Linked DNA regions of Homo sapiens. The protein of the gene in region 1 purifies or fractionates together with the protein of each later gene. This does not show direct contact. Each region holds a gene or a part of one and is shown on either strand. Other genes may lie near its edges.

What was found.
Region 2: the proteins of ALKAL2 (region 1) and POTEE purify together in Homo sapiens (affinity purification with mass spectrometry; one large-scale study listed by BioGRID and IntAct). This does not show direct contact.

What each region holds. Positions count from the first base shown.
Region 1 is NC_000002.12:278,682-282,418, reverse strand, and holds the end of ALKAL2 (ALK and LTK ligand 2 precursor), read left to right. Parts: intron 1-2,266; coding exon 2,267-2,272; 3' UTR 2,273-2,861; downstream 2,862-3,737. UniProt on the Homo sapiens protein: Cytokine that acts as a physiological ligand for receptor tyrosine kinases LTK and ALK, leading to their activation. Cytokine-binding is sufficient to activate LTK. In contrast, ALKAL2-driven activation of ALK is coupled with heparin-binding to ALK.
Region 2 is NC_000002.12:131,247,536-131,251,035, forward strand, and holds part of POTEE (POTE ankyrin domain family member E), read left to right. Parts: intron 1-3,242; coding exon 3,243-3,313; intron 3,314-3,500.

The sequences.
Region 1 (3,737 bases):
ATGTGTCTTGTATATGTGGGCACTGCCAGATGCTGGCTACACCAGCACAAGAAAGACAGGCTTCCTGTCCATTGATAGCTGTCCGGAGCACATTCATGAAAAGGGAGTATTTTTATAGTGGTTACTCTAGTTTCTCTCATGTAAAATGGATGAGGGTAGGGTAGTGCTCTTTCCTATATAGATGTGCTCTCTATGCAGAGGCAGTGCTTATGAATATTTAGGTAGCAGCAGAAGGGTTGTGTGCATGACCCCAACACCGGCAGGAGGCATGGCGGGTCCTGCCCATGCATCCCCCACTCCATCTTTCCCAGTAGAAGAAACTGCTGCTAATGAGAGGAATGGCACTGGGGGAGGGAGGCCAGTGGGTAATGGCGGGTTGAGACTGCATTTTGCACAGTTTCACTGCACTTTTTCTTTGGAGATAGTGAAGGTGTCAATGTCAGTCAAAGCTGGGAAGTGCTGTGTAGTAATGTCTCCCCACATCCCTGCTCTTTCCAATTCTCTCGAGCAGCTCATCCACTGCCTATGTGTCACACAGACTTTCTTCTGTTTAAATCAGTGAACAGATGTACATTCCTGTCACCCAAGGTGATATGCCAGGGGAGATGAGAATTTTTTTTTTTTTTTAGGTATTTCTTTATAATTAAACACAGTGTTCCCAGAGATGGGCCAGGGACATCCTTGGAAATTTTCCACTTACTTACAAGTGAGGAGAGCAAATTCCCCACTGTCTCAGCCACTGGAAGAGCTACTCCGTCCACATGCCCATTAGCCGACCCCTGCCTCCCCTCCGCTGGCTGCTGCTGGAGGCAGGTGCAGTTACACTGAAGGACGTGGTCATGTCAGTGGGACTCAGGCTCCTGTATGGGTCTCTGCGTGCGCACGTCCTGCTTTGCAAACGCCACAGTGATGCCCTGCAGAAAAGCTGTGGCAGAATCCCCTTGATAGTCCCCAGCACTCTTCACATCACTCTCCCCATCACCAGACAACCACATCAGAGCCTGACTGACGATGAGATGCAGGTAAAGGTAACAAGACAAGGCCCAGGCTCGCAAGCTTCTGTCCCCAAAAGGCCACCTGCTTGACAGCCACAGGTGTCACAGCTGTAACTGGGTTCATTTTGGCCAAGAGATAGGTAAAGTTTAAAATATTGATACCCTGTTAACTATAATTTCATAACTCCTATTTTTTAAAGATAATTTCTTCAAATTCCAAAAGTTTTAAACAGCAACAGCAAATTGTTACTGGTGTTAACAAATTGTTAAACAGCAACAGCAAACTCTTACTGTGGCTGGTCACCACAGTGTAGATACAGTCCGGGCTTTCTCTGTGCTTTGCAGACCTCAGTGAGACACCAGAGGGCAGGGCAGGTGTCCCAGGGTGCCCACACTCGTGTGACGGTGTGGCATCAGGCAGGCCCTGCAGTCCCAGTTCTGCTGGTTAACCTGCCACATGCACTTCTGTCCTGACACACAAGGATGGCAGGGCAAGACCGTAAACCATGACCTTGTCTTTGTAAAGAAAGGCCCAGAGCCTGAGAAAAGCAGGCCTTTAGCAGGAAGGGCTCTGCCCTCCTCACCTCAGAGCAAATCCATTTGCCGCGTTCTGAAGCTCATTAATAGACCTCCTCAGGCCAAAGAGAACAATGTCCCCACCAACCCTCCCTAACAGTCACAGATACACTTCATTGTCCGGACTTACAGGTCAGTTAATCAGAAGCCTGAGCTCTGGAATATTGTCAAAGAAATGGAGTTTTGAGTAGTGAGTACATGGTGTACTCTCCCAAATGCAGCCTAATCTTAGTAACCTTGAAGTTTATCATTCTTTAAAAATAAATAGAATACCAATGGTTTAGATATTCCAACAAAGAATGCTAGAAACAAATGTCTAATCTCGATTATTAGCTTTACCAACCCTGTGAACACTGAGGTTGCAGAACTGCCAGGTTAATCCCTGTGGCCTAGACTACTGAGGATTCTGATAGCACATGTAAGACTAAGCACTCTTCAAGCTGTAATAAAGCATCCACATGTATCTGTGATGATTTTCATTGCTTTAGCATTGCAGCCATGTAACAACTGCAGAAAGAAGGTATTTTTAAAAATACAATAGACTACACTTTTTGGATCACAGAGAAATACAGATGCACTCTGAGACTGCCTATGTTTATAAACATGTTGTGTCCCCTAACTGAAGTGACAGGTCTTCTGGAATTGACATTAAGAAGTGTGGATAGTCATATCACACGCAATGTATTTGTTTTCAGCAGTGAGCAGACCGTACAGGAGCAGCACACCAGGAGCCATGAGAAGTGCCTTGGAAACCAACAGGGAAACAGAACTATCTTTATACACATCCCCTCATGGACAAGAGATTTATTTTTGCAGACAGACTCTTCCATAAGTCCTTTGAGTTTTGTATGTTGTTGACAGTTTGCAGATATATATTCGATAAATCAGTGTACTTGACAGTGTTATCTGTCACTTATTTAAAAAAAAAACACAAAAGGAATGCTCCACATTTGACGTGTAGTGCTATAAAACACAGAATATTTCATTGTCTTCATTAGGTGAAATCGCAAAAAATATTTCTTTAGAAACATAAGCAGAATCTTAAAGTATATTTTCATATAACATAATTTGATATTCTGTATTACTTTCACTGTTAAATTCTCAGAGTATTATTTGGAACGGCATGAAAAATTAAAATTTCGGTCATGTTTTAGAGACAGTGGAGTGTAAATCTGTGGCTAATTCTGTTGGTCGTTTGTATTATAAATGTAAAATAGTATTCCAGCTATTGTGCAATATGTAAATAGTGTAAATAAACACAAGTAATAAATGAAGTGTTTGTTATAATGACTAGTCTTCAAAGTGACTCTCTACCTCTTTAACAGGTTCACTGTTGGGAATTCGTGACTTCTGATTTACTGAGAGATCATGACACTGGCAAAAGGTCATAGAATATGAAAGCCATAAACAAATGAAAACTTGAAGCCTAAGAATTTCTCTAAGGGATAATTAGCATTTTTTTTAAAGTAAAGGCTACTATATATTGGTGACATAATTTCCTAAGATAGTCCCTGATTTGCTGGGAAATATTCCAAATAAGGTTGTATCCATTATTTCCCAAGCGATTTTGTAATCATGAAAATGCTTAACTAGGAGAAACCTTAAGACTTCTAAGCAGTCTCAGAATTTTAGATGTAGATGTATTTTAAACAAATCTAATTGGATCCAATTTAAAAAGCTGAATTCGGCAAAGCAATGAGTTTCTCCATTCATATGAGCCCTTGTCGGCAGATGGTATCGTCTGGGTGTAGCCATAAGGACAGAATAGTCAAGAGTCCTAGGATTTGTTTGAGGATCTGTATTTATAGAGATAAACATTAAAGAAAAACTATAGGATTTTATTTCCAAACATAAAGGAATAGAAGAGTAAGAAATTTTGACTTTGAGATTAAAAGCAATTACTGAATGAAGAGAACAGGGTGTAACTTTTGAAGTGCTCTTATTTAATCCTGTTTTCTAATTACAGCTCATTACTTGACCTTTCCTTCCCCATTTTTTATGTTTTAAGGATTTCATGTTCAAATATCCAATCTATTAATATTTAATCCCCTCAGTTTTCTGTATGTCTGAGTAATTCCAACAAGAGCAAGACTCACTGGGTTTGCAAACTTTCTTCCTATGAAGACAGCCTGGCACTTCCACATGGTACAGTGGGGAAACTACTCA
Region 2 (3,500 bases), about 130 Mb from region 1:
CTGGGAAGGTAAATATCTGATTAGCTTAGAATAAACATTTCTTTCTGAGGCTGAGGAGGGGGATTGGGATATTAAATATCCCAATAGACTTATGTTTTTTCTGCCAGAAAGAATGAGGAATGGCTATTGATAGGGAGCCAACAATGTGTGCTGGAGGGGGCTCATTGGAGAAATTTGAGCAGGGGAGCCACAAGATTAAATTTGAGTATTAAGGCATTCTGGTTATGGTGTAAAATGGGTTAGCAAGCTTTTTCTTTAAAGGACCAGGTGGGAAATATTTTGGACTATGTGGTCTCTGTCATATCTACTTAACCGTGCTGTTGTCTGCTGTTGTAGTGTGAAAGCCACCATGATTATATGTAAGCAAACAGGCATGACTGAGCTCCTATAAAACTTTATTTACAAAACCATAATGCAGATTGGATTTGGCCTGTGGCCTATAGTTTCCTGGGATTGATGGGAGATAATCATGCAAAGAAACCAGGAGACAAAGGAAGCTTTTGCAGTAGTCAGCTATAGTTTCCATGTCACACATCCTTGGAGTAGCATCAATGTATTACAAGGTTTTCACCCGTCCATGGTGAAATAAATAACGTTAGAAATCTCAGTTACTCATTTTACTATGTTGGCCTTCGTTATGCCCTTTTCACTTGTTTTGCTTAATTTTTTTTCCTGTAAGAAATAACATTAATAGTTGGCAGTTTTCTTTTAAATAGAAGTCATTTTGTAAATGTTTGTGTTCCCAGTGGCAGTGGGAATATAAAACAGAGGCAGAAGAGAGGTATAGTCAATATGATTTAGTGATAATTGAATGAGAAAGGCTTGGGGGACAGAGAGAAATCTCAGATGATGTACAGGTTTCCAGATTGCACACTAGTATTTAACCTGGACATGAGGAAGGAGTAGGAAATTTTCTGGTGAATACAGAAGAGCAAAGAGCAGCAGGTCAGCAGGAATGACTAATGTTTTTCGATGCATGTTTAATGGAATATTCGTGTAGGGTATTTTGAGTAGGTAATTGGATAATCAGCATTTATAACTCGCATCCTACTAGTTTGACTCTAAGTAATAAGACTTGTCAAAGATCCAAGAATCTGAAAGTCAGTAATAAATGTCCATGTGCATCATCGTCCGTGACAGAAAGTCAGCATCCACAGAACACAGAATTGGGACAGATGAACTTAATAGATAAAGATGAATATCGGAGTTGTTCCTCTTAGGGAATGATACTCTCCATGACCTGTGTGAGTCACAGCTGCCAGAAAAGAAAGAGCAAGGAGCGTATGAAGGCAGCACAGCAAATTCGGTCCTAGAGTGCCCTGCTTGGCTTCATGTCATAGTTCTGACTTCTAAATAATCATTTTCTGCAAAATGTGCTTTGTGTTTTTCCCTCTTGCCGCCTGCAGCCAATCAGAATCTTTTTAGCAGGACATAATGAAAAGAAGTAAGAGAAAGAGTGTTTTTTTGTAATGGGATAGTATTTAACGTAAACTTGAGAGTGAGTACCAGGATTATACTTAGAATTTATGGACTGGATGGGAAGACTGGATAGAAATCTAAAGATTGCTGACTCAAACACAATGTGGTTTCTTTGATTTATTTTCACAGCTCTGAATTCACGACTGTTAATTGTATTCATATGCATTATAACTTTACAAAGCATCTTCCGAAACCAAATATTTACTGATTTATTATAATTTGTATGACTTTATTATAGAACTGACTTTCCAAGTGTTCATGAGAATTGTTTAGAATTTGCTACATTGTATCATCTCAGCTGTGTCCACATGAGCTATCTGTCACCTTGTCTTAATGAATAATTGTTCACTAGGAATATTGGTTTTGGCATTGAAATGATCTATATCTAAATGCAGATAGGACCCGGGACCACTTTTGAACATTAATGTTCAAGCATCTTAAAATTACACATAATGCTTTCATAATCTGACTTCTGCCCCACTCTCCATCTTTAGCCCTTTTCCCTGTGTGCCCTGTCTCTGGCATTACTGAACTGCTGGCAGTGCCCTACTCACTCATCCTTCTATTGTAGGCAAATACTTTCACTCTTTCAGGAGTCGCTCCCGCTCTTGCTGCTGCGTGGCATGCCGTCACCCTTTCCTGCCCTCTACACCTTTTAATCTGGCTAGTCTCAATATTTAAGTCTCTGCTTGGGCATGTGTTCTAGAAAAGCCATCTCTGACATGCTTTATTTTAATTCTTTTTAAACCCTAATGCCTAGCATGTATTTAGCAGGACTCAATAAAATATTTCTGAGTAAAACAAAGACTGTTTTTACAAAGATGATGTGCAAGACTCTCCCCTGCAGTCTTGGAGCAGAGGGGACAGACGTGGAGGAATAATGTACAGTTTAGGTGGTCAAGATGCAGTAGAAAAATCAGTAAAGTACTAAGGCAGCCTCAAGGAAGGAGGTACCTGTTTATTTGGGGAAAGACATGCAGAATCAAGGAAAACTTCATATAGCATTGTTTCAAAAGATGAAAATAAGGCCAGGTGTGGTGGCTCACACCTGTAATCCCAGCACTTTCAGAGGGAATCACGAGGTCAGGAGATCGAGACCATCCTGTCCAATGGTGAAACCCCATCTCTACTAAAAATACAAAAATCAGCTGGGTGTGGTGGTGCTTGCCTGTAATCACAGTTACTCAGGAGACTGAAGCAGGAGAATCACTTGAACCAGGGTCGCGGAGGTTGCAGTGAGCTGATCACACCACTGCATTCCAGCCTGGTGACAGAGGAAGACTCTAGCTCATAAAAAAAAAAAAAGAAAAAAGAAAAAAAGAAAATAAATTTGTCAGAATAGTGGAGAGAAACATTTTAGATATTAGGAAGATGTTGTACACTAATAAAGGTGTCAGCAGTGATTTTGGAAATCATTTATAAGGTACTATTAGGAAGTGGAGAACAGTACACTGTGTCACCTTATATGTTTCTACTGTATTTTAAAGCTGTGTTTCTGGTGGTTTTGTTCATGGATGTTGGGTGGATGAATTTGTGAGGGAATTTTTGACATGTTTGTTTGTCTTCAATCTGGTGACATCTGCTATCTCCCCAAGTGGGTTTTTGAAGTTTTTGAGAATTATTTCTTAAATGACAATTTCACAAAAGATGAAACACTCAATTTATGAAATAAAATGAAATGTCTCAAATCTGTTTTTAAAAGGCAATAGTTTTTAACTGTTTTAAGTGGTTGATTTTAACTGAATGTATGGATTTTTCAACAGAACAAGACTTAAAGCTGACATCAGAGGAAGAGTCACAAAGGCTTAAAGGCAGTGAAAATGGCCAGCCAGAGGCATGGAAACTTTTAAATTTAAACTTTTGTTTAATGTTGTGTTTTTTTTGCCTTAATAATATTAGATAGTCCAAATGAAATTACCTTTCAGACTAGGCTTTGAGAATCAGTAGATTGTTTTTTTAAGAATCTTTTGGCCAGGCAAGGTGGCTCACGCCTGTAATCCCAGCACTTTGAGAGGCTGAGG